Linked DNA regions of Homo sapiens: region 1 is linked to region 2. The links come from fine-mapping of genetic effects on gene expression. A gene starts in region 2. The other region holds a variant in brackets. All regions are shown on one strand. Distances are from middle to middle.

Region 1 (16,513 bases), 88 kb after region 2:
GTATTCTTATGATGTACCAGGCACATGCTTAGGCTCTTAACTAGAGAGAGGACCCATTCAATTTCTGACCTGAGGAATCTCATAGTGAATTTGAGAGGCCAAAGTAGGAGGATTGCTTGAGGCCAGGAGTTTGAGACCAGCCTGGCCAGCATAGCAAAATCCTGTCTCTTAAAAAAAAAAAAAAAAAAGGAACCTTATAGTGTAAAGGGAGAAATTTAAACAGATCAAGTTAAAAAAGTGCTGTGAATAAATTCCAGACAGAGTATTGTGAGGGGATGGATATTTAGGATTTTGATAACTTTTATTAGATTATTTCCTTGATTTTATTTAAATAAAGGCCTTTTATAGCCTCAGCCTCCAATGATAGAGTAAGCAGGGTAGTCTGATAAAATATTGAAATATTTTCTGTGGCCAGGTGCAGTGGCTCACACCTGTAATCCCAGCATTTTGGGAGGCTGAGGCGGGCGGATCACTTGAGGTCAAGAGTTCAAGACCAGCCTGGGTACATGGTGAAACTCCCTCTCTACTAAAAATAAAAAAACTAGCTGGGCTGAGGCAGGAGAATCGCTTGAACCCAGGAGGTGGAGGTTGCAGTGAGCCAAGATTGTGCCACTGCACTCCAGCCTGGGTGACAGTGAGACTCAGTCTCAAAAAAAATTTTTTTTCTTTTTTTTTAATAGAGTCTCACTCTGTCACTCAGGCTGGAGTACAGTGGTACATAGCTCACTGCCACCTTGAACCCCTGGGCTCAAGCAGTCCTCCTGCCTCAGCCTCCTGAGTAGCTGGGACTACAGGTCCGTGCCACTGCGCTTGGCTAAATTTTTTTTTTTTTTTTTTCAGACAGAGTCTTGCTCTGTCGCCCAGGCTGGAGTGCAGTGGTGTGATCTCGGCTGACTGCAACCTACGCCTCCTAGGTTCAAGCGATTCTCATGCCTCAGCCTCCTGAGTAGCTGGGATTACAGGCGCCTGCCACCACGCCCGGCTAATTTTTGTATTTTTAGTGGAGACAGGGTTTCACCATGTTGGTCAGGCTAGTCTCGAACTCCTGACCTCGTGATGTGCTCGCCTCAGCCTCCCAAAGTGCTGGGATTACAGGTATGAGCCACCACGCCCAGCTTAAAAAATTTGTGGAGATGGGGTCTTGCCATCTTGCCCAGGCTGGTCTCTTAACTCCTGGGCTCAAGCGATCCTACCACCTCAGCCTCCCAAAGTGTTGGGATTACAGGCATGAGCTACCACACCTGGCCTAAAATATTTTTCAGTGTAGATAATTTTAAGATCTTATTTCTTAAACACACACACACACACACACACACACACACACACACAGATTATACATATTACTGTCTTTGGATTTTAGAATATATGTTACTTTATAGTTAAAAAATAATGTCCACTTAAAATAATATATGTAAGGAGCAATGGGGCTCCTGTTAGTTTTGTAAGAGACTGCAAAATATCTCAGATTCCCTAATTAAATTATGTTGGCTCCATTGGACATGTGTTCATGAAGATTTGACGAGTATGGTTATTTTGTTATAGGCTTATGGAGAAACGAAGAGAAAGAATACATAACTTCCTGAGTGAACTGTTGAAAGAGAAACTTGACAATGAAGATATGATTATTGCTAGAGATATTGCAGAAGCTGAGGCTGAATGGGAAAAAAGAGAAAGAGAAAAAGATGAAAAAAACAAAGCAGAATTAAAAACAATTGCAGAATATCGAGCCATTGTGGTAAACAATTCAATTATGAAAATAAAAATAGAAAGACAGAGTTAGGACCTTTCCACTGTGTTTTCCATCTCATCTGCCTCTCTAACCAAAAACTAGCCAAGATATTAAAAACAATGTATGAATTATCTTCCTGTATTTTTGAAATTGGACAATGTTTACTTCCTAACAAAGATGACACGACAGTTACAAAAAAGATATTTATAGATGCAAAGTAATAATCTCTTCTGTTTCAGAACCATCTGAAACGCAAAGGTTATTTGTTATACTTTTCATTTGTAGGTTTTAAAGACAAACCATGTAAAAATTATACATTTCTGTTTCTTAATATTTTAAAACATATCTTACATGACTGTCATAACATTTAATTTGGATAGTTTATACACATTGGAGCAATTTTTTTTTTTTTGAGACAGAGTTTTGCCCAGGCTAGAGTGCAGTGGTGCGATCTCAGCTCACCTCAACCTTCGCCTCCTGGGTTCAAGCAATTCTCCTGCCTCAGTCTCCAGAGTAGCTGAGATTACAGGCATGCGCCACCATGACTGGCTAATTTTGTATTTTTAGTAGAGACAGCGTTTCTCCATGTTGGTCAGGCTGGTCTCGAACTCCTGACCTCCCGAGGTGATCCGCCCACCTCGGCCTCCCAAAGTGCTGAGATTACAGGTGTTGAGCCACCAAGTATGGCTGGAGCAATTAATTTTTTACTTACATATATTTCCCTTCCTTGAGAAGATCTTGCTTTTCATCTTTTTCAAGCCAATAAGGATTGTCCTATAGCACTTGGGTATTTTCTGATATTCAGGAAATAGAACAAAACCAAAGTAAACTGGCCGCATGGGAACCACCCCAGGTGCATGCACTTTTCTGCTCCTGCATTGCTCCTGGCTGACTCTCCTCTGCTTCAACTCTCTGACTCTGTGCCTTTTCAGACAAGACTGGTTGCTATAACTGGTTTTATATGTTTCCTTTGCCTTTAAACATCTAGATGAAAAATAAAGAGGAAGAAGAAAGACAAAGAAAAATAGAGGCTAAAGAACAATTGCTGGCTGTCATGAAAGCAGATCAGATTTTCTGGGAACATGAAAAGGAGAAAAAATGCAAAGCTGATAAAGAACATCAAGAGGTTCAAGATGCCCATATTCAGCAAATGGTAATTACTCCTGAATGTTTATAATTATGTTAGTAATAAGTATATAATACAGAATTCATGCTAGTTTTCTACTCCCAAGCAGTTTCATCAGGTAAGAAAAAAATGGTCATTATGGTTATGACACAATAAAATGTATTAAAAATGTGAGGTTTGTTTCTATCTCCAGTGAAGTTCCCATGTGAGTTTTATCTTTTAAATGAATGTTTATCCTTCTTTAGTGTCTATTATACTTCAGTAAATATTAAAGAAAATACAAATGCATGTGGAGGCCATAATGTTCATCTTGTTTTACTTTTTTCCCATATCTCAGAGACTATGTTGATTGCGATCTCATAGGTTTCAGATTTGAGGAATGGAGATATCAGATTTTAAAAGATGTGTAGAGGACCTAGCATCCAATCATTTGTAACTAAAACCTGTTTTTGAAATGGTTGTACCATTTTCCATTCCTACCAGCAATGTATGCAAGCACAACTTACTCCACATACTCATCAACACTTGATAGTCATCCCTTAATTTTAACTATTCTAGTATAGTGATATCTTATGGCTTTATTTTACATTTCTCTAATGACCAAAGATAATGGACATTTTTTTCACATCCTTGCTAGCCATCTGCATACCTTCTTTTGTGAAGTGTCTATTTAAGAGTGTTGCCAATTTTTAATTGGGTTGTTTTCTTAGTGCTGAGTTTTTTAAAATTGATTTTTATTGTGGTAAAATATACATAACATAAAAAGTACCATTTTAAGCATGGTTAAGTGTACAGTTCAGAGGCATTGAGTACATTCACATTGATCATGGCCACTATACATCTCCAGGGTTTTTCATCATCCTGTACTAAAACTCTGTACATGTTAAACAGTAACTCCCTATCCCCTCTTTTCTCCAGTCTGAGTAACCTCTGTTTTACTATCTCAATGGATTTGATTATTCTAGGTACCTCATAAATGGAATCAGACAATATTTGTCCTTTTCTGTTTGGTTTTCACTTTTTTTTTTTTTTTTTTTTTTTTTTTTGAGACAGAGTTTTGCTCTGTTGCCCAGGCTGGAGTGCAGTGGCATGATACCCACTCTCGGCTCAGTGCAACCTCTGCCTCCAGGGTTCAAGCAATTCTCCTGCCTCAGCCTCCCAAGTAGCTGGGATTACAGGTGCCCACCACCACGCTGGGCTAATTTTTGTATTTTTAGTAGAGATGGGGTTTCACCATGTTGTCCAGGCTGGTCTCGAACTCCTGACCTGAAGTGCCCACCTTGGCTTCGGCCTCCCAAAGTGCTACGACTACGCATGAGCCACTGTGCCCGGCCTCCATTTTTGAATTGGATTTTTTGTTGTTGGGTTTTAGAAGTTTTAAAAATACTCTGTGTATTAAATCTCTTATCAGATACATGATTTGGAAATGTCTTCTTCCATCCCATGAGTTACCTTTTTACTCCATTGATAGTATCTTTGATGTATAAAAGTTTTAAATTTTTGGCCAGGTGCCAAAATAGTTTGTTGTTTCAATCACGATCAAATAAGATCAGTATTTGGAATCCTTCTGATTTACTTGTTGAAGTCTTTAAGAAGTTTTCTTGATCAAATACTTGGTTCCTCTTAGGTACAATTTTTAAAGAAAAAAACAGAATACTTGATTTTTTTTGCCTTATTTTCCAGTTTTCAGACAGTTAATTAGCTATTATCTTCCAAATGTACTTCGAAGGTACTTTACCTTCATCTGTTAGCGTTTTTTAGGATTTTAAACTTAATTTTTTGGAACTTTTTCTTTATATATTTATGCTTAATGCATATCAAATGTGAGGTACCAATCATATGTTCCATTATAGTAATTCTTTCCTTCCATTGTCACTTCCTTTCTGTGCTTCAAGTGGTTCTTTCTGTTCCCTCAATATTTTTCTACATTTACTAAACATATCCAAATTGCTGCTTATTAAGTTCCCAAATATTAGCATTTTACCTTCGATTAGAGATCGATTTTAGCTTTTTTTTGACTTTTTCTCCAATCTTATTGTCATTTTCTACTTTTTAAAACTCTGGCATTTTATCCCCAATTTCACAAATAGTATGTAAACTGAATTTTGAATTGTAGCACTCAATAATGAAAAATTTGATATTTCACACTAATATGGTTGCTCTATTCCATCAAAAATTTAAATTTATGATAGATATCAGGTTTGGGTTACTATTTTATGCCAACATTTTGGATTTTGAGAAATATTTTTATGAATATTAAATATATTCCTAAGTAGTCAAAGTAACTGTTATTTTAAAAAATAAACTCAACATTTCTTAAAATGCCACAGAGAATACAAAATGAGAAGTTGCCAACCAGAGCATCACAGAAAAGCCATAAAAAGAATCTCATCCAATGTAAATTAATATAAAGAATTAAACGACAAAATTTGTATAAAATATTGGTAAATTGGCTTTTGGCAAATTGCCTACTTATTCCACTCAGTGCCTTCTCAACCTACATTGATAAATGTCACTCACTGTTCCAATTTTAAATTTTCGGGAAATAGATAATGTAAATGGTTTTAGTCCAGATATTCACTGCTGATTTAATCTTATGTGGCTGGGGACATAGTATATTGGGCTGACCCAGCACAGTAGAGTTGAGTGAATTCCTCCAGAATAGTGGATGGTTAGAGACAATGGTGGGTGTGCATTCTAAACCACCAAAGTTCACATCTTGTGATTGAAACAGGACTCTAAACTCAGTTACCTGAGTTTTATCTAAATTTCATAATTTTCGCTATTTCACTGTGCTATTTGCAAATGTATCACATAAGGCTATTAATAAAGGTTTCATTGCACCACCACTTTGAGCATGATAGGAAAGATTCTGAAATAAATGATAGTATATAGTTGTTAAATCAGAACTTGTAAAGTATCAATGAGTTTAGAAAATTATACCTACATTTTCAAATGCTATGTATATTTAGAAAGTTCATGTTCTTAACCAATATTAAGTTAAATTTCCTTTCTTTCCCAAATAGGCCAAAAATAAGTTTAATGCAAAGCAAGCAAAACAAGCAGAATTAGATTATTGCAGACTTACTGAAGCTCTTGTGGCTGAAAAGGAGAAAGAATTTCAGGACTA[T/C]GCCAGAGAGGTAATTGAACTTGAATCGGAAACAACAAATAAATATATTTACCCTCTTGTAAAAGCTGTACAGGAAGGACCTGGAGGTGGCCGTGGACCAGTGTTTGTGGACAGAGGTGGATTAAGACCCAGCTATCAGGCAAATGATGTTACTGGAGTCCAGCTCCCTTTTTATAACTCTCAGGGACCAAAATATAATTTTCAAAAGTCAAAGAGAAGGCTAGGTTTTACATGGTAGAAAAAAATTATTTTTAACATTGAGAAGACTAAGTTGTAGCATATATGAGCTTCAAATATAAATGGATTTCAGTTAATAAAGCTGTTCTTCATCTAAGTACAATTATGTCTGATTTAATTGATTGTTCTCAGTATTTCTTTTGGGTATATATAAAACCCCAATTTTGAGATTCCTTTTTTTAACTGTGGTAAAATACACAAGTTTACTTTTTAAATGTACATTCAGTGGTATTAAGTACATTCAAAATATTGTGTAGCCATGACCATTGTGTAGTTCCAGAATTTTTCAGTGCTCTTACTAGAAACCCCATACCCATTCATTAAGCAGTCACTCCCCATTCCCCTTCCCCACAGCTCCTGGTAACTTTATCTGCTTTGCCTATACTGGGTATTTTGAATAAACAGAATCATACTGTGGCCTTGTGTCTGGCTTATTTCACTTAGCATATTTTCAAGGTTCATTCATGTTGTGCCATTTATCAGTGCCTCATTTTGGTTTATGGCTGAATAATATTCTCCTTGATATATTTCTCTTCAGCAGAAATTCATATGCTTATTTGCTTTGTCCTTCAGCAGTTAGTATCAGATAACATTACCAGCATTATTACACTAACAATAGGATTATTGAATGAAGACTTCTTTGTGGTTTATTTTATAGAGTATATCTTACTAGACATGTACACATTATCATGTTTTGAGGTCACTTAAAATAATTCTACATGTAGTTTTGCCAACTTTAGACAACAAAACTTGTTTCCAAAGAGACAAAGCAGATTAGCAGTTACCAGGGGCTGTGGGGAAGGGGAATGGGGAGTGACTGCTTCATGAGTAGGGGGTTTCCAGGTGGAGCACCAAAAACTTCTGGAACTAGATAATGGTCATGACTACACGATACTGTGAATGTACTTAGTACCACTGAATTTTGTGTGATTTTGTGAACTGCATTCCCCCACTGTTTAATTTTTTTTTTCATTTCTTAGGTAAAAAACACAGAACACCTAATTTAATGTCTTAACCATTTCTAAGTATATCGTTCAATAGTGTTAAGTATCTTCATATTGCTGAACAATCTGCAGAATTTTTTCATCTTGCACAATTGAAACTCTGTATAAAACAACTAGTCTCCATTTCCCCCTCCCCTCAGCTACTGGGAAACACCATTCTGTTTCTGTGAATTTTGACCACTACAGTATAGGTCCTTTTGTGACTATTTCATTTAGTGTACGGTCCTCAAGGTTCATCCATGTTGTAGTTTATGTCAGTTTTCTTCCTTTTTAAAGCTGAATACTCCATTGTATGTATATCACATTTTGTTTATTCATTCCTTCATGAATGGACACTTGGGTTGCTTCCACCTCTTGGCTATTGTGAATAATGCTGCTTTAAACATGGACGTACAAATAGCTCTAAGATCCTTTCCATTCTTTTGGATATATACCCAGAAGTAGAATTGCTGAATCATATAATTCTAAATTTTTAGAAACTCATACTTTTCTCCATAGCAGCTGAACCCTTTTACATTTCCAACAGTGCACAAGGTGCACATCCTCACCAACATGTTTTTTTGACAGTAGACATCCTGAGTGGCTGTGAGATGATATCTCATTGTGATTTTGATTTGCATTCCCTAAGGATTAGTGACGTTGAACGTTTTTTCATATGCTTGCTGGCCATTTGTCTATCATCTTTGGAGAAATATCTGTTCCAAGTCCTTTGCCCATTTTTTTCATGTTATTTGTTTTGTTGTTGAGTTGTAGTTATTATGTATTCTAGATTGATCCCTTTTCAGATAAATGATTTGCAAATACTTTTCCTTCCTTAGGTTGCCATTTCACTGTTGTATCCTTTGCTTATTTCTCTTTAAAAGCAAATACACATATATTTTACTTACACAAAATAACTTCGTTCTTTTCACTTAATATAGCTTAGAGACACAACACAGCAGATATAAATATCTTCTTTTCCAACTGACATAGTATTCTCTTGCAAGGGTGTACCCGTTTATTCAACCAGTGGCATACCAATAGATATTTGTGTGGTTTCCAGTCTTCAGCTATTATAAATTCTGTAATTAACAGCTGCCTTTTTTTTTTTTTTTTTTCATATTTTTGTCAGTTAACCTTTGAGATAGATTCCTACACAGGGGAATGCTGGGTAAAGGTGTAAATTGTTCAGTGTATCATTCTATAAGAGACCAAATCTTAGAGCAAACATTACTTATGTCATGAGCCTCTTGGAATCTGATAAAACTTAGTGGCTTTTTCAGCAGTAAGGTACACATACACATATACTCTACAATTGTGCATACAGTTTTAAGGACTTCCACAATGCCCTCTAATAGACTGCACAGCACAGTGACTAACATACATCTAAGATTGTGGCTTAGTATACCTGGGTTGTACTTTTTTAAAATGGCAGATTCTGTAGGCAACCATCATTCTGAGTTACTGTTTGTGGGTTTATGGACCTCGGGTTTTAAAAAATGAACTGTTTTAAAGGAGTAAAATAGCTGGTTATTTAAAACAACACTATCTACTGATTGCCAAATTGTGTGCCAAGGCATACTGAGGAACCACAGTGAACTCACAAATTTTTGAAACAAATTACCTGACATCTGTAAGACTAGCTTGAGGTAGTTCAACATATTAAATGCACTGTGCCTTTTGATGATATCCTGTTTGTAAAGCTGAATTTTCAGCAGCTGATGGGATAAAACTCATATATTGCACAAAATCAATGTATTATAGTAGAGGATGGTGTGTGATCTGATTTTGAGGTTTGAGAAGTTGTGCTGTGACCAACATTTGCACACATTCCATTAGTAACTAATTGTGGTTAAGAATGGAACTGTAAAAATATTTTTTAAAATTTCAAATGGCTAAGTTGTTAGATATACTTTAGCTATGTGAACTTTTTATTTATTTTTTATTAGAGACTGGGTCTCACTCTGTGGCCCAGGTTGGAGTGCAGTGGCACAATCACAACTCACTGCAGCCTCAAGCTCTTGGACTCAAGCAATCCTCCTGCCTCAGCCTCCCAGTTATGGGATTATAGGTGTGCTCCTGGCCTTTTAATAAACCGATCTGTTAGGTATTTATTCTGGCGCAGGGATAACACCATGTTAAAATTACTGAGACACAGGTAAAGTGAACCAAGAAAGTCTGGGAACTTCTGCCATATATCCTTTCCTTTAAATTACATAAATACAATATATAGTGGTAATTAGTAATTTTAGACAGCTATCTTCCCCCATATTATAAAACAGGAAATAAGTTTCTACGTAACGGTTAATTACATAAAAGTGTTATACAACCAACTTAGTTTGAGTGAAGGATAACATAAAACACCAGACATTACTAGTTTTTCTGCCTTATATATACAATTTATTTTACTTTAAATTGGGCTGGGCTTTCTACTAGAGTATACTGAGAAGAAAGGTAAGGCTACACAATGTTAATCACAAAATAATTCAATGAAAAGAACTGAAGCACAGCAGTGGAAACGCAACTACTCTAATCTGCTAATTTGATAAGAGAAACTCATAGATAAAATCTGTGGCAAAGACATAAATTGGAACAAGGCATTCTGATTACTGAGAGGACTTTGATGGGAGTGGGGAAATGTAAAAATTATGAAACAAAATTATGATAACAAAGTTATCAGGTAAGGAAATATGTTTAGGAAAGAAACCTAGGAAGTAAATAGAAAAAGCGAATTGATGCCTGAAGTTATTTTAATGCACAGTTTGCAGTTCATTTGTTGCACTTGCATTTTATACATTTTCTTGGATAAAGCTTTTAAGAACACTCCAGATTTTGGGAGTTTAATAATATTCACGTGTTAACACATACAAACTACTGAATGTTCAGAAGGTTTTTACCTAGGTATATACCTTTCATTGTCAATATTCAGTATAACTAGGCATATATTTTCAATGACGCACTCTCAACTAAGTGCATTTTCCCTACATGTCTAATGTAAGAAAAAACAGCCCCCAAACTAGGTAATGTTTTACAGAATTCAATTAACATTTATGTTTACATGACTTCACCACTCTGTTATAGGCACAGGATCTATTACAGTGATCCTAATGCTGAAAAAAATGCGGAGGACTTAAGAAGCAAATGGTAGTGATCTAGTAGACAGTAATACAAATTCCGAGCTTAACCTTGAAAGTTTGCTGGGCAAAAGACACACTACAATCTGAAGTATTATGATTAAATATTTACATTAGAACATTCTCAAACCTGGAAATTTTCCCTGCTGGCTAAATTCTTAAAGCTCAGTATTGTTAAAACTTTGTTCAGTTTTTTCATAATGTAAATACCTGTATATCTGAGAGTAAAAGTATGTTTTAATTGGTTTATTTTCATTATTTAGCTTTTAATTTTTAAAAGGCTGGATAATACAATTTAAAAAATACAAAACCAAACTGTTTATTATAGTATAGTTTATTTAATACAATGTTTAACTATAAAAGTTAATACAGCTTCCAAGTTTCAATTTTGTAAAATGCAGTTTGCAGAAAAGTTCAACAATTACTAGACTAATGATAAGAGAAGCAGCATTTTGAAACTAATTTTACAATTGAGAAGACAACAGCTTTTTTTCTAAACTTCATTAAAAAAATATAATCACAGTGACTTTTGGGCTAGGAAAAGAAGTGCATTAACTTCATTTATGTTTTTTCCTTCCACAAAGAGAGCGGCCACAATTTTGTACATCCCACATACAAATACCCAATTCATTTATCTTTCAAAATACTATATACACACAAAAGGGGAAGAAAATATACAGCATGTGCTTTTGGTAACATATGGAATTTGCTTAAAGAAAAAAAGTCAGAAACACAAATCCACCCCACCACTCCCTCACATACCTTTTAAAACAAACTAAACCCCTCAACAACTCCCTACTCCAACCTTGTTGACGGAATTTTCTTATTCATGTCATTTTTCTTTTCCTTTAATATATACCTCTTTGTCACACAATAGGCCAAAGACTTTGCACTTGCCCGAATCCACTGAAGGCAGTTAGTTGGGAAGCTCACTATGGGCAGTTGTGCCAGTCAATGCTGTACTTCCTGGGGGCTTATTAATTTTTAAAACAAGTATTTGTAACAAAACACATCTTTTCACAATAAACAGCTTATCAACCTATAATCCTTATTCAATTGTAAATGTATAAATCCAAAATGAAATAATTACAGTAAACATAATCAAAAGGAAACAGAAGAACACCCATTTTGTTTCTTTATAACAAATCAGCTATGGTAGGTATTTAAAGTACCTTCTGGTGAAGGCAAACCCAACAAGCTTCTACAGAAATTTAGTATAAAAAGTTTAGTGTGATGAAAACTATATTACCAACTGGAATGAAGTACAATAAACTACTAACAAACATACTAACTTGCTACATATACTAACTAAAATAAATTAGAATTGTCAAGTTAATACCACTACCCAAAATACCAGAGATCCAATATGTGCCTATCCATAATGAAGAGTTCTTTAATTGTTTAGCTCCATACCTTCCACTAGGCACAAATATCAAAGGTCATTCCGCAAAGCCGTCCATGCATCAGTATCACATTTGTGCAAAGGCAGATTTATCAGATAAATTCTTTGCAACTTCTGAGGGCTTCAATTAAGTAACTTAAAACTATGAACTTACCAACTATGTAGTAATTTAATCAAAGAATGTTTTAAAGCAATCCAGTAGCTTCTCTACTGCTCATTTCATTAACATTAATCTCACCATAGTGTCAATTTCTGTGGCAGATGGCTTACCCAGAAAAATAATTCATACAAAATAACCATGAAAATTCTACATATTGAAAAAATTTTCTCAGCTATCACCAATTGAGCAATAAATCAGTTTAAATATTTTTAAAAGGATATTAAGTCAAAAATACTTTGACATGAACCATAAATTTAGACATAACTATAAAACCAACTTGATGGGAAAGTAATAGTTGACTTTTAGGAAAACAATGTTCAAAGCAAAAACTAAAGATGGCACAACTACTAAATGTAACAAAAGGAAAGGACCATTTGAGCCGTGTGCTATTCAGATGCATGCGCAGATCCTGAGGTACAGTTAATGCTGTTTAATCATTTTAAAAATGTTCTTTATATTCTAAAAATAAAATCTAGTTGATTGTCCTCTCAACTCCTTCACATCTGTTCTGTAAAGAGAGCTAATAAAACTTTAAAATAAGGACTATAAATAATGCGGAGCATGGAGTTGCTCTTTTGATAACCCAAACAGAATATTGCCTATAGAAATTACTACAATTTTTTTCCCTATGGTTACTTTTTGAAACTCTAAGATTTGGAAATCCTTATGTATAATTTTTAGTAGATAAAGCTCTGGGATCAGACAACATGTAAGAATTTTTACTTAGCATGGACTTAAAAAAAATATTTAACTGTTATTAGAAATCCTTTCTTAAATAGCACCTTTCTTAAAGCTCAAATAGTTTATAACAACAATTTTAAAATGCAGTTAACTGAAATTAAGACAAACAATAACTTGCTTAAACTACATAACGTTATATAGCTTGGGCACTCAGACTCAATTATCCCTAATGTGGGTTTGTGGTCAGTCTCTAAGGAATCAATCACCTTGGATTTTATAATAAACATCTACTACTTTTATCATCGGAAAAAAAAATTTTGGAAAGAATTCATTGTGGATATCTGTATTACAATTTTCCAAGCAATCTTATGGTCATTACACTATTCATTCTGCAACAGCTACCACAACGCCAAATATATCAATATTGCATTAATCAATAGTGGGAAGTATCATGTTAATAATTGCTTTATTCAGTACAAATAGCATTGAGTAGCTACTGGATTTACCAAGAAGCTACCTTGGTAACAGAGTTGACACTACACTGACAAATATTAAAGTACAAAACTCTCTAGAGAATCCTATTAATTGGAATTTTGAAATTCCTTTTCAAATGAGGCAGGTTTTATGTTTGCTGGATGTTCAATGTTTTATTTAGAAGAGATTACAGAATAAAAGGCCACACATCACAAAAATGGCAAAATACAACACCCAAAACTCTAAATGGACTTTGGATATGTTTAGTGTTTAACTCTGTAAACTATCAAAATTTGCAACTTTCTACTCTACTCTATATGGCAATGTTATACATGCCAAGTTAAAATAACATTAACAGTAATGGTATAAAACCACCTGAAGAGAAAGAAACCAGAGTCATAAACATGCTATAGCCTATCGTGATACATATATAGAAAAGATGCATTTTCTTGCCATTTGGAACTCACAGCTATGAGAGTTAGAGAAGTCAGTTCAATTAAAACAAACAAAATCCATGCAGAGTTAACACTCAATTCTATATAGGTTGGAGGCCAAAAAAGAGAAATCTTAGAAGTTAATGTCTCAATACTAACAATTTTTAGAATCTGTATAGCTTAAGGACCTGCACAAATGGTATGTTTTAATGAGAAAAGCTTTTTTTTTTTTAAAGTTTAGAGAAGGGTAATTAATAATTAAAACGTTCCCAAAACTCTTCAAACCAAAAGCAACACAGAACTGAGAATCACAATCTGATTTTCCAAGGTATAGTTCCTGTCAAATGCTGTATAACAGCAACTCAAGCTCAATCAGTACATCAACTGAAAAAAATTACTCTTACGATTTTTATAGGCAGTTAAGTAAAACACAACTAGACAGGAAAAGCATTAATAGGAAACAAGCTATGGCTCGAACTATAAAGAATAGAGTATGAAGTGCAATATAAATACATCTATTTTAAAGCACAAATTACTATAAAATCAAAAGTGATGATTTAAGATCTCAGGTTATTAGGACCCTGCTTCTGTGTAATTAAAAGAAACCGCTGCAAACCTCTATTTATAACGCAATCAGAAAATCTATACAAGATGTCTTCTAGTGGCTTCTAAAGTTACTTTAATCATGAGAAACACAAGCTTTTGCAACAATGCATTGCAACCATTCCAAATGGCTGACTAAACAAATTAGGATGCTATTGGCTAATTGTTGCAACACAGTAATGCATACATAAAATAGTTAAACACAGCACACAGTACTACACCAAAGTGTTTTTCTCATGTCGAGTTTATTAAAACTTTAGCAGTACAAATTATCCAGATTGCAGATTATCAAAAAATCAACTCAATGAAATCCACATTAAGAAAAAAAAGGACAAACATAAAACAATCCAAAAACAATGAAAAGGAAAACAACATAAAGGAGATTCATTAGCAAGTCTCTCAAACTTAAAATCCGAAACAGAATGGAAGTAAGTTTATATAACTCACTCATCCGCTTTTGTCTTCATCTGTTCCAGGGCTTGATTCATGATCAAATTTTTTATTTTTTTCATGTACATGGTCATTTTCTTGACCTTTTGATTTTTGGTTTTCTTTTTCCACTGAGGATCTGATCTTCTCATCCTCCTTATTTTTCAACATGGAGGACTTTAATTCATTGTCCTGACTGCTTTGTTTTATTTTTGAGAAGGGACTTTGATCTCTATCAGCCTTTTTTTCCCTGCTGTTATTTGAGCTATTATGATCACGACTTTTAGAGTACATTCTTTTCTCACTCTCAGAATTTTCTTTTCTGTGTGAGCTCTTACTCTCTTGGTTTCTGTATTTGTCTTTGTTTCTGCTTTGACTTTCTTCTCTCTCTGAGCTCCGTGAGTCTCTCCTCCTTCTCCTCCTATCTTTACTTCTTGATCTTCCTGGTGGTGTTCTTCTCTCTCGGCTTCGTGACCGTCCTCTTCTCCTGTATTCCTGTTCTCTGTATCTATGGTACTCCTTGCTTCTGCTGCGATCTCTGTCATGGGTTCTTGATCGCACTCTTCTGCTTCTGTCCCTACTTCTGCTTCGTTCTCTTGTTCTGCTATTATAACTGTGTTTACCTTTAGTTATATCACATTCTCTACTCCTGGATTGTGCGCGTCTATCCTTTTCCTTACTTTTACTGTGATCATGCTCATTACTCTTTGATTCTAACTGTTTAGACTTCTCTTTACTTCTACTCCTTTCCTGATCTTTTCCTTTAGAATCAGACTGCTTTTCTTTTTCTTTAACATTTTCATGATCCCTTCCTTTACTCCTTGACCTCATCCTCTTTTCTTCATTTCTATTATGTTTTGAATCTCTTTCTTTACTCTTTGATTTCTCTTTGCTCTTACTCCTACTTTTAGATTTGGCCCTTTTCTTCACTTTGTTTTTATACTTGTCATCTTTTTCTGAATTTCTTCTGATGTCTCTCTCTTTGCTGTTAGATTTATGGTCTTTAACTTTCTTCTCCTTTTCATTTTTTCTGTTTGGACTCTCAGATACATTCCTGTGATCTGTTATTTTTCTCTCTTTTACTCTAACTGGACTTCTCTGATTTTCTTTTATTTCATTCAACTCACTCCTAAAAAATAAGAAAAAGAATTGGGGAAATGTTATTAGGAAAAGAACTGTAGATATTATTAGCTAAAATGATATTCTACTTTTCTTAAGGTATTCAGCAATAACTAAAATGACAATAACTTTATGTATAATAGTAAAAGCAAACACTTATCATTACATTTGAAATAATAATAGTTAAATCTTACTTATCCCCCTTGATCCATCTTTCACCACTTGATACCCTCATTCTTTGAGCTCTCTGCATCTCTTGCCTCCAATGTGGAGGAGTCTCACTACGTCTGAAACGATCCCTTGATCTGGATCTGGAAGGAGTTCGATAACGCTAAAGAAAATTAAAATAGGGAAAAATTAATGTATAGAAGTATAGAGGGACTCGCATGGGTGCTGGGAGGGAGGGAAGTACTGGGGTGAGGGTCAGGAGGTAGTAAGGGGTACAAAATAAAAAAAATATAAAAAGCATTGAAACAGTAGCTTAAAAGTATATGTTTCCAGGTTAAAATAAAACGTCTGATATTTCTATACCCTGAAAATTACTAAAATTTCCCAATTTTCATATAGGAAATCAATGAGGCAGAGAAACTTAAGTTGTCATGTTGCAAATTCCAAGAAACATTAATCACAAAAACTTTAGCTGCTAGCCATACGTCTTCTCCATGGAAGAGTCCTAACCAAGTAATGCTAGAGCAACTCATAAGTTGCCAAGTTCCAATCTAAATGTTATATATACTTAATGTTTCAAAGCAAATATTTCTCATATTATGGGGAAAACAGAGTAAATGTGTAGATGTTCACTTATTCAACCCTTAGGATGACCAAACACTCTTATTACATACTGAGAGAACATCAGTGAGCCAAGATATATG
Region 2 (12,109 bases):
GCACTGTTCTAAATATAAATTTTTAAAATTTCAGTAAAGTAATAAGCTTTCATTCTCAAAGAAATATACTCTGAACCCACCCTTGTAATCCCAGCACTTTGGGAGGCCAAGGTGGGGGGATCACTTGAGGTCAGGAGTTCAAGACCAGCCTGGCCAACATGGTGAAACCCCGTCTCTACTAAAAATACAAAAATTACCTAGGTGTGGTGGCACATGCCTGTAATCCCAGCTACTCAGGAGGCTGAGGCAGGAGAACTGCTTGAACCCGGGAGGCAGAGGTTGCAGTGAGCCAAGATCACGCCACTGCATTCCAGCCTGGGAGACAGAGTGAGACTCCATCTCAAAAAAAAAAAAAGAAAAAGAAAAAGAAATATACTCTGAACCACAAAACCATTGAAACTGTTATATCATCCTTAAAAAACAGAATCAGAAATGTATGCTAGTTTACAATAGCTCCTTAAATATATGGACTTTTCTTATTTCTTTTGCAGAAGAGGGGTCAGGACATTCAGAGCCCTCCTGGAATCGGCAAGTAGTGGTGAGACTCAGGCAAAGACAAAAACCAGGGGAGCAACAGCACCGGGCTTTCTGCTACCTTCTCCCACCCTGGTGTGACAGTGGTCACAACTTCACATGAAATCAATTTCTGCTCTATAAGAGCTGACATGTCCTTCAATACCGACATTCAGGACAATCATGCGTAACATTTATAGCATGCTTACTCTGTGTCAGACACTGTTCTAGGCACTTCACAAGCATAGATTAATTTAATCCTCTCAATGATCCGAGACTAGGTAATATTGTCATCCCCATTATACAGATGACAAAACGGGGGCACAGGGTGATTAAACAATTTGCCAGAGCTCATCAGCAAGTAAGAGGAAAGCAGGGATCTGGATGCAGGCAGTTTAGCTTCAGAGGCAGCGTGCCTGATCCCAAGACTGTTCTGCCTCTCAGCTTCCTGCCTGTCATCCAAGGATCATACCAGGTCAGATTTCCAGACCAGGTCAAATTCCCACACTCTCACTAGCATTAAAAAAGAAACAGAAAAGCCTGGGAAGAAACATTTGGGACAAAATGATACAAATTTGGTAACGACCTACCAGTTGTTTTTGTACAACTCCTCAGCACCAATGAATAAATACAATGAAATAAGATTCCCGTTTAACTTTTTTTCCAGTGGGAGAGAAGGAGAGCAAGGCAAACAAATCGCCAAACACAGCAGAAAATAGTGTTTATCAGACAGATACCGAGACCCAGGGGTGTGCCGGGTTCTGTGGGCCACATGAGGGAGAGTATGGTGTCTGCCCCTCTCAGAGAGGACTGAATTGCAAAAGCAGACGTTGTCTCTAGTTCCTGGAAGAATGTACTTTGTTACATCCTGTAGGGACCAAACCTTCCAAGGTTTTAATGAAGGACCTCTTGAGAGCTGATCAGCGTATTTTGAGAGGAAAAAGTTGAATAGCAGAATTTTAAAGGGTTCAATTTTAAGAACATGAAAAAATGAAAAACTGTCCAGATTTGTCTCTTCATCTAGCCCTTGACTTGAATATAAATTCTCATAACTCTCAGACAAGTTGGGAACTATGCTATACTGTTTTTATCTGGAACATTCTGTGTAGCATTATTTGTATAATTAACTATAGTTCCTAGATAGCATCCCAAAGTGATAAATTCAAGAGAAGTGAGACTGCTGGCCTAGCTCCAGACATCTAAAAAATACAAAATAAACATAATCTCCACTTACCTTTAATCATGTTTGCAATAGGAATCCATTTCTCTTTTAAAGGATCATAGAACTCAGCCTCTTCTGCTGGAGCCCCTTTTCTGTAACCACCTAAAGCATAGACACAGCCACCCAAGGTGACTGCACAGTGGTAATACCTGGCATTGAGCATTGGCAAACCTTCTGTCCATTCATCACTTTCACTGTTATAGATCCACACTGTGTCAAGAGCTTCTATGTTATCCGTCCTGTAGCCCCCAGTTACATAAATGTTGGGTCCTAAACATGTAACACCATAGCTCTCCCTGGTATAATCTGGTATTTCTGCTCCCTGAATCCAAACATTTGTCAAAGGATCCCATATGTGAACCTCTGATAAAGGATGCCAGTAATAGCCTCCAATTATATACATTGTGGCTGTGGACCTCTGGGAAATCTCTTTATGCATGGGATTCAAGGCATTGTATATTAGGGAGCGGATCTTATTTTCGGTGAGCAGGCAGCTTCTTTGAAGGCCTAAGGCTGTTTTTAAGTACACTGGATCTATATCAATGTTGATATAGCTCAGTAGATTATAGAGGCATTCAATTCGATTTTCTACATCATGAGCAGTCCACTTAATAACTGGCTCTATGATAGCTTCTTCTTTCCAAACACTGAGATTCTTTCTGGACAAGATAAAGAGAAACTTTTCAAGGCTGATTTCCAGAAATTCTTCTTGTTGCCACACTTCCTTAAACTTTGAACATAGAATTCTTCGAGATTCCTTCTCTAGTTCTGGACACACATGAAATTCTGCAAAGGAGTGCATTCCAATACAATTATCAATATCCAAGTGCCTTACCAAAAACCGCTCACAAGCCTTCTTTACTGAAAGGAACTGTAGCAGATCCGCTGCCTCAAGCAGGCTTTGAACATTTCTTTTAGTTATTTCAATTTGGGAAGTGTATGCATAATTTACAAGGCCTTCCAGAATATCATGGTGGATGCCAGAGAGTTTTATTTTATTTTTAAATTTTTCTTTCATGTCAGCTGTGAACATTGCCTTAAAATAATTGCTGCAAGCAGCTAAAACGGCTCGGTGACAATGGAAAATTATGCCTGAAGGACACTGAAGAGTAATATCAGTAAATAATCCATCCAAGTAAAATGTTCTGAATGCATCCAGAAAATCCACTGGATGTGTTGAATCCTTGAAAAGATAAATATAATCTTCTTGTCCTTTTAGAGCCATGGCTGCAATAAATATGAAATAACAAATGTGTTTTCAATGTTGCACATTCTCTCAAATAATCAACGCTAAATAACTTGACTATCATCGGATATACTCCAAAACTGGACTAAGTTCAGCATCTAAATAATAAATGCAAAATGTGGATGGACTGTTTGATCATTTATATGGTGGTCAATTTAAATTCAGGGTAGCTCGGAGCTTGAAATGAGGCTCCTGGATTTTTCAGTAGTCCTTTTGAGAGTACTGATTTGCTATTCCATTCACCGCAATCTACCCTGGCCTGGCGTTCGGAGATGAGATCCCACACTAGGCAAGGCAAGTGTCCGAGGGTCACCCCACTCGAGGCCGGACCTCAGCTGTCTCGGCTCGGCCCCAATTCAACCTTTTCCCCAAGCTCGTCTCCCTTTCAAATCACATCGAAATGCCAAGAAAGGGATGATGGAAATATAAATGGACAAGAAGAGGTCTCGGAAAAGGGAAATCCCGAGCCCTTTCGCTTAAGGAAGGAGAGAAAGGAAGGCAGCTCGGCGCAGCCCTTGCAGCCCTCGCCCCCTCCCCCGCGCCCGCCGCAGGGGTTTCCGCGCGCCCCGCGCCTGGGCCCCGGCCCACGTTCCCGCCCGGAGACCGCCCCGCCCCGGGGCCAGGAGCGGGGCTGGACTCGAGGGCGCCGCGTGCCGCCCGCGGGCCCGGTGCCCGCGTCCCTCTGCCCGGCGCTCCGCGCAGGTGTGGGAAGGACGCCGCAGGCAGCCCCAGCGCAACGCGTTCGGCCCGGCCCGGCGCCCGCGCGGCCATTGTCTGCGCTCCTCTCCCGCGCGGCCTCGCTGCCCGCGCCCGGCCCCGCTGCCCGCGCCCGGCCCCGCTCCCCGCGCCCGGCCCCGCTCGCTCCCAGCAGGCCGGCCTCGGGCTGCGGGTCCACACCGCACCTACCTCCCGCCGGGGCTCGGGACGCGGCGCTGGCCCGCGGGCTAGTAGCGAGCGGGAGCGGGGACGCCTCCGGCCCCTCTGACCATCTTTGGAAGAGGCGCTCGGAAGCCGCCAGCTAGTGCCGCTCCACCCCACAAGCAGCTCCTATTTTGGTGTCCCGGCGGCTCCCCCGCCTCCACCCGAACAGCCCCCCGCACGGTCTGGGCGCGAGGCCACTCGCGGGAACTCCCCCGTCGCCGGGCCGTGCGGCGAGCGGGGCGGGGCGTGCAGGCGTGAGCACGGCTCGGCCCCTCCCCAGCGGCGCCCCCCACAGCAGGTGGGACTGCTTCCCCAGGAGACAGCGCGCGCCGCCGCCTTCCCCTTCCTTGGCTCGCTCTCTGTCCCGCGCGCTCTCTCACACCCGGTCGAGCGTCTTCTCTTAGATAAACTCTGAGTCCTGAATTATTAATAACACCATATATGAGTGTGTGTGTGTGTGTGTGTGTGTGCGCGCGCGCGCGTGTGCATGTGTGTACACTCCCCTCCCTCAGTAGGCTTCGCCAGCCCAGACTCAATCGTGAGGACAGAGAAGGGGGAAAGAGTGGAGAGAATGGGGCACAACTAAAGGTCAGGGATTGGAGGCGCCGTTGAAATGCCAGAAGTAGCCGGCCTTTCCCACAAACGCCATCCCACCCCCAGCAAAGCACTCAGGAGGGCGCCTTGGTGCTGGTGAGCACATCAGGGGTTAAGCTGAAGCTTTGAGAGAAACTTTGGGCAGCCGGGGCCAAGGCGAAGTCCAGGCGAAGTCCAGTCGTGCTAAGATTCAGGTTATTGTATTTAGAGCATAGCAGCTGGAAGGAGCAGCCTTTCTGGTGACGGCCACTCTAGTCACAGATGTCTATGTGGTACACAAAGTTCATTTTCTTGTTCCAACTAAAGCCAGTATCAAATATTTTTGTATATCATTCATTCATTCATTCGCAAGATTTTATTAAGTGCTTCTAGTGCCTGATAGGGATAGACACTAGTAGTGATAAGAGTGTTGACAGATGGTCCCTAGCTCACAGGGACCTTCACCACCACCAGAGGACCATGTGTTTCCCAGAGTATGGTCTCAGAAACGCAATATACATGAATGGCCAGATAGTATGTGACAACAGAACTCTGAACCACATAAGAAGCCCAGGAAGCCAGACCACAACCTTGGTAGCAGCTGAACCAGAACAGTCAGGAAGTAGTCAACGACTGGCAATTTCCCTATTTTTTTTCTTTTTTGAGACAGGGTCTTGCTATGTTGCCCAGCCTGGAATGTAGTCGCACGATCTTAGCTCACTGCAGCCTCGATCTCCTGGTCTCAAGAGATCCTCTGCCTCAACCTCCCAAGTACCTACGACTACAGATGTGCAATTTTTGAAAAATTTTAAATATTTTTTCATGACAGGGTCTCACTATGTTGCCCAGGCTGGTCTCAAACTCCTGGACTCAAGCGATCTTCCTGCCTGGGACTTCCAAAGTGCAACTTCCCTATTTTTACCCCTAGTTCCACCTCTGCACCAACCAGAGAAAGCCAAATATGTTCCGCAAACCCATCACATAAAATACCCCCGCTTCTAGTAGCCCACCTGCAGCTTTCCCATGCCAACAACTTCCAATCAGAGCATACCGGGGGCTTTTCTTCACTTCTATAAAGCTTTCCCACTCGTCTGCCCCACCTTTGAGCCTCTGACAAAGTGATGGTGAGTGGGACTCCCTTCTACAGCAAACTCTGAATAAATAGCATCTGTTGGTTCTCCTGTGGGTGGGTTTTAGTTTAATTCCACAAGTCAGATCATCTTAATTGAATTATGTAAGATGCTGGTTATGCAGCCCCCACAACTACCACACCCCACGCACAGACGTCTGCGGGGTGGAGACCTAGGGATCTGCATTCTAATCAAGGGCAGCAGGTGATTCTTATGGACAAATAAGAGAATGTGTTGGACCCAAAAGGAAGAAGGATGAAAGTTTAACATCCCAACATCTGGTAAACAGTATAGTTAGAAAAGGAAAGCATATGAGATTTAGTTTCGGGCTTAAGGCTCATCTCTGCCACTTATCCAACATATAGCCTCTCACAAATTACTAAACTTCTCTGATCCTTCGTCTTCAGATCTGTAAAACACAGACAACATGGATACTTTCTCAACCTAACCTAAGGTTATTGGAAAGACAAATTAATAATGAAGCACTTAGGACTTGATATATAAATGTTAGCTACTATAATGAAAGAATATTTACACTTAATTCTGCATCACAACCTTAATTTGGAAATTAGCATCTTCTTAACATTTCTTCAGAAATTATGAACTTCATAGTTAATAGTAATTATAGCTTGCCCTTCATAACTGATAGTGATGCTGTTGTCACTGTTGCCATTCAAGGACACAATTGTGACTGATTGAAGGAGACTTCTCTCCATTTTTGTCACTGAAGTGTAGAGATGGCTGTTTTTGCAGCTATAATTACTGTTTGCCAAGTTTGATGTATAAAAAAATATAGGCTCCATCTAACTTGGAGTAAGGGCTTCTGGAATCATAACTACATGTAATAATAAATGATTCATGAATAATAGAATTCACTATATTCTCATTTATGCAGTTATTTCAGATGGCTGCATGAACCAACTAAAACTCTTGCTTTCATTTCGTGATGTTCCCTGGTTGTGAATTACTACTTAAAAGTGTATATCAGTGTATATTACATATTAGACTATTATACTGCTTCACTTTGCTAAGAGAAGAGCAGGTCCTGAAGGGTATTGCCTGGCATAGTTCCTCTTTACCATGTGCTTATCAAAGAGACCATTGCAAATGCTGATAGATTTGATGCATTCAGAAACATATAATTAGCATTCATAAATCAAATAAATTAATGATACCGTTCAAGAAAACAGATGTGCCATCTGTGGTTCCAAGTCTTAAAGAAATAAAGTGCTGCCATGGAAATGAGACATAAATGATTTGGCAGATACTAAGCTTGGCATGGAGTTAGATGACTTATTGACATCACACTTCAGCTTTCAAAGGACTCCGAGTTCTAAAAATAATGATTTTATTTATAATTTTTACCTTATTAGTACATCTTTCCACTAAGTACAGCCATGCCATTAAATGTTTGATATGCTGTGATATCATTAACAATGTGTGTAGATGATGGGCATAGATAGAACATTTTGTATACTTCATTTACATACTGGATTAAACAAGTTGCTGCCAAGTTAAAAAAAAAAAAAAAAGGCCAGGCCCATTGGCTCACGCCTGTAATCCCAGCACTTTGGGAGACCGAGGCAGGCAGATCATGAGGTCAGGAGTTTAAGACCATCCTGACCAACATGGTGAAACCCCATCTCTACTAAAAATACAAAAATTAGCCAGGTGTGGTGGTATACGCCTATAATCCCAGCCACTCAGGAGGCTGAGGCAGGAGAATCTCTTGAACCTGGGAGGCGGAGGTTACAGTGAGCCAAGATTGCGCCATAGCACTCCAGCCTGGGCGACAGAGTGAGACTCCGTCTCAAAATAAAAAACAATAGTAGGTAAAATGTATAAGGCTACCACATACAGCTTTGCAAATTGTGCACTGCACAATTCCAGCTCATGCAACTTAAGTAGAGTACAGTGTAAACACTGCTCTCAGGAGTTGTATAGTACACAACCAACGCAGGTATCTGTGGCTGCCCTGCAGCCGATGTGTCTTGGTAAAACCTTTTTTGGTATGTTTCCTGTAAAATAAGAAAGTGAACATTCTAATAACTAGGTAAAAATGCTTTTGCAAGTCACAGGTTTCCAATTCCTGGTTTCCAGCAAAAGTGAAAGAGGATTTTTGGCAAATAATTTGGAGGGAATGACAAAATGAATGGCATTACTATAAAAAAGGTTTTTTGTTTGTTTTTTTTTTTTTGAGACGGAGTCTTACTCTGTCACCCAGGCTGGAGTGCAATGGTGTAATCTTGGCTCACTGCAACTGCTGCCTCCCAGGTTCAAGAGATTCTCCTCCCTCAGCCTCCTGATTAGCTGGACTATAGGTGCATGCTACCACGCCCAGTTCATTTTTGTATTTTTAGTAGAGATGGGGTTTTGCCATGTTGGCTAGGCTGGTCTTGAACTCCTGACCTCAGGTGATCCACCTGTCTCAGCCTCCCGAAGTGCTGGGATTACAGGCATGAGCCATCGCGCCCGGCCACTATGATAAAATTTATCTCATTCTTACCTATTTGTCTCTGTGAACATGTTTTCTCAGCGATTATGTCTATAGAAATGTTAAGCAGGAACATTATTGAACCTAAATACTGTCTCATTCCAGCAGTAAGCACTACTTGACTTCATACTCTAAATGAAAGTAGCCCTATTCATCAGATTGAAATAATTTTTAATAATTTTTTACTTTTGATTTAAACATATTTATGTTTAATTAATTATAATAATAATTATAATATTAATTAGACCAGGATTTGTAAAATAACCAAAGATATAAAACCATCAAGGACATACAAATTGTAATTTATACACATTTTTGTCACAGAGAAGGTTAAGAGATTAATAAAAGATATTCAGTATAAAACCATACAGAAAAGTCTTTCTTTTTTTTGGCCTGGCCAAAAATGCTTTCTTTGAATGGTTCCAATATGTATGAATTTTAGTTACCATGGTTTAGTTAAATAACACCTGTCCCCTGAGAACAAGGTTTCAAATTTCAGTTACTGAAGTAAATTAACTCTGAGTAACTGCATAAAATACAAATTTGCTGCTAGCTCCTCAGGTCCATGAATTACTACATTAACAAATGCGCATCCTGATCAGTGACCAATCATGTATCTTCTTTCAAAGTCTGTCAGTGATTGATCTCTGTGCATCTGTCAGTTCACATACAGACAGTAAGGCTTGCAGTTGCATTGTCTCCTTGTCTGCTAGTAAAAAACCCATGTGACATTTTACAAAAATGGGTGATTGAGAAAGGGTATTGACCAACAAGGATGAAAGTATGGCATGGAAATAAAAAGTGACAATACCGCAAATAAAATGTGAAATGGCTGGGCATGGTGGCTTACGCCTGTAATTCCAGCACTTTGGGAGGCCAAGGTAGGCGGATCACCTGAGGTCAGGAGTTCGAGACCAGCCTGGCCAACATGGTGAAACCCTGTGTCTACTAAAAATACAAAAACTAGCCAGGCGTAGTGGTGGGTGCCTGTAATCCCAGCTACTCAGAGACTGAGGCAGGAGAATCACTTGAACCTGGGAGGCGGAGGTTGCAGTGAGCCAAGATTGTGCCATTGCACTTCGGCCTGGGTGACAAGAGCAAAACTCCGTCTAAAAAAATCAACAAAAAAAAAGTGAAATGAACACAATGAGGTTATAGAGGAAATAGCTGACCATGGGAATGTTTACACTACCACCATTGGAGAGAATTCAGATATGCAGCCAGGGAACTTAGTGCAGGTGAACTCATGACATAAGTGAGTCACCTTATGTCTCAAAGGAAGTGATCCTGGCAAAAAACTTCACATTAAAGGAACTCTTGGAGATATTTCACCACATCGAAAATGCAAAGGATAACACATTGGAAGTTGATCCAAACGTAAAACTATGACAGTCCATCAAGGCGTAGAAAGATGAGTACGCCAAATCATAAGTTTTATGACAAGAAGGCAAGAAACTAAGCGAACTACTATTGTTAAGTGTTTACAAAGAAACATAACACTTTATCAATGTTTCTAATGTTTTAAATTGCAGTATACTAAGTAAATATCAGTCTTACCATGTTCTTTATTTCCCTATACATTTTAACGAATAGTAAGAGAGTTCATAATGTTGTGACAAAAAAATGTAAAGGTCATAGGACAATCATAATTTTTCCCATTGATTATTTAGATCACATTATACATTTTCAACTTGTACAGTTATTTTGAAGGTCCTGTATTATTGTGCAAAGTGAGGACTGCCTGTATTTTCAGTGGGACAACCTTCTCTAAGAGAAGTAGAATGGAAGTACGAACTCAAGAAGAAAGAAGACTGAGAACTAAATTTTAAAAATGAGAAAATAAAAACTTCCAATAGTTTTTTTTTCTGAACTCCATGTCTCCTGATTCACAATACAGACGCAGCACAGGGCCTGGGCTGAGGTATATGTGGGGTCGGTTTACTCTGCCTCCTGTTTCTATACAGTCAGCGTAAGAACACAGACCATGGTAAGTACTAGGAAGCCAAAAATTTCCCACTTTTAAAGAACAACTTGTTTATGTATTTTTAAATGAATGACAGTGGTTTTGAACGGCTATATTTAGTTTTTACTAAATAGATTTAAAAGTATTATTTAACAGTCATTATTTATAACATGTTAGAAATTACAACCTTGGCAAATATTTAAACTTGTGATGAAAAGTTTCCAATATCGATTTAAAAATATGGAAGTGAGTACATAGTTTTTCAAACTTATTAGATTTGAAAGACCACTGATCTGGTCCCAAAACAGGAATTAGCCTATTACTGTTTGAGGGAGTATTATTACTATTTAAAAGATAGCAGTTTATTTGAGAATATGTTTCTGTGCCACAGAGCTCAATCCCAGATAAAATTAATACAAGACAGAAGGATAATAAACTAGGGCTTTTTCCATTATAAGCGATGGAGAAAGAATACAAGTAAGAGCATTGGCTCAACTAACCCAAGAAAGACTGATATTATTCTATAAGTCAGAGATTAAAGCTCGCCAAAGACTTCCTGGCTCATTCAGTAAAAGCCAGAGTACTTATAACAGGCTCCTGGATCCCCACATCCAGCTCTGCTTTGCCTCTCACCAGGAGGCGGTGCCTCAGGGCTTTCTCCGGGCTTTGCTACTAGCTATTCCTTTCGCCTGGACTGCTCTTTTCCCAGCTACCACTACAGGACTGGCTCTCTCACCTCCATTAGGATTTTTTTTTTTAATTTTCTTTTTTTTTTTTTTGAGACAGAGTCTTGCTCTGTCACCCAGGCTGGAGTACAATGGTGTGATATCAGCTCACTGCAACCTCTGCCTCCCAGGTTCAAGTGATTCTCCTGCCTAGGCCTCCCGAGTAGCTGGGATTACAGGTACATGCCACCACACCCAGCTAATTGTTGTATTTTAGTAGAGATAGGGTTTTGCCATGTTGGTCAGGCTGGTCTCGAACATGTGACCTCCAGTGATCCTCCCACTTCGGCCTCCGAGAGTGCTGGGATTACAGGCATGAGCCACTGCACCCTGCCTTTTTAAAATTTTTGTGGGTTCATAGTACGTGTATATATTTATAGGGTACGTGAGATACTTTGATGCAGACATGCAATGTGTAATAATCACATCATGGTAAATGGGGTATCCATCACCTCAAGCATCTATCCTTTGTGTTACAAACAATCCAATTATACTCTTTTAGTTATTTGAAAATGTATAATTATTATTGGCTATAGTCACCCTGTTGTGCTAGCAAATACTAGGTCCTATTTATTCTTTTAAACTAGTTTTTGTACCAATTAAACATCCCCACAGTCCCCCACTACCCTTCCCAGCCCCTGGTAAACTTCCTTCTACTTTCTATCTCAATTGTTTTAATTTTTAGCTCCCACAAATAAGTGAGAACATGTGATGTTTGTCTTTCTGTGCCTGGCTTATTTCACTTAATATAATGACATTCCAGTTCTATCCATGTTGCTGCGAATGACAGGATCTCGTTCTTTTTTACAGCTGAATAGTACTTCATTGTGTATATGTACCATGTTTTCTTTATCCATTCATCTATAGATAGACACTTAGGTTACTTCCAAATCTTGGCTATTGTGAACAATGGTGCAACAAACATGAGAGTGCAGATGTCTCTTTAATGTACTGATTTCTTTCTTTTGGGTATATACCCAGCAGCAGTACCCAGCAGCAGGATTGCTGGATCACACGGTAGTTCTATTTTTAAGAGTTTTTAAAGAAAGGGTCTTTCTCTTTCACCCAAGCTGGAGAGCAATGGCATGATTACAGCTAACTTCAGCCTCGACTATAGCCTCGGGCGATTTTCCCTGATTCTCCCACCTCAGCCTCCCAGGTAGCTGAAACTAAAGGCATGCACCACCATACCTGGCTAATTTTTGTATTTTTAGTAGAGACAAGGTTTCGCCATGTTGGCCAGGCTGGTCTTGAACTCCTGGCCTCAAGTGATCCACCCACCTCAGCCTCCCAAATTGTTGGGATTATAGGTGAGAACCACC

Evidence for each region. PIP is the estimated chance that this variant, and not a neighbour inherited with it, causes the effect. A credible set is the group of variants that fine-mapping cannot tell apart.
Region 1: its variant is the best candidate, but not a certain one, in a credible set for the expression of KLHL23 in whole blood (TOPMed, PIP 0.70).

The regions. Positions count from the first base shown.
Region 1 is chr2:169,635,551-169,652,063 of GRCh38, reverse strand. It overlaps CFAP210 (cilia and flagella associated protein 210), which reads left to right. Exons shown (of 9, transcript NM_001085447.2): 7 at 1,543-1,735; 8 at 2,718-2,882; 9 at 5,882-6,639. The coding sequence ends at 6,223. PPIG (peptidylprolyl isomerase G) reads right to left here. Exons shown (of 14, transcript NM_004792.3): 13 at 15,836-15,972; 14 at 10,658-15,651. The coding sequence ends at 14,541. Among named protein-coding and RNA genes, the nearest start is that of CFAP210, 51 kb to the left of the region's middle. RefSeq lists a silencer at 4,219-4,419. The variant T/C (reference allele first, on the strand shown) is at 5,986.
Region 2 is chr2:169,725,866-169,737,974 of GRCh38, reverse strand. It overlaps KLHL23 (kelch like family member 23), which reads right to left and starts at 4,143. Exons shown (of 4, transcript NM_144711.6): 1 at 3,888-4,143; 2 at 1,748-2,962. The coding sequence starts at 2,960. The region is part of intron 3 of PHOSPHO2-KLHL23 (PHOSPHO2-KLHL23 readthrough); the gene reads right to left. LOC124900531 (small nucleolar RNA SNORA51) reads right to left here and starts at 10,103; the gene lies at 9,972-10,103. RefSeq lists silencers at 3,453-3,632, 3,743-3,812, 3,833-4,272.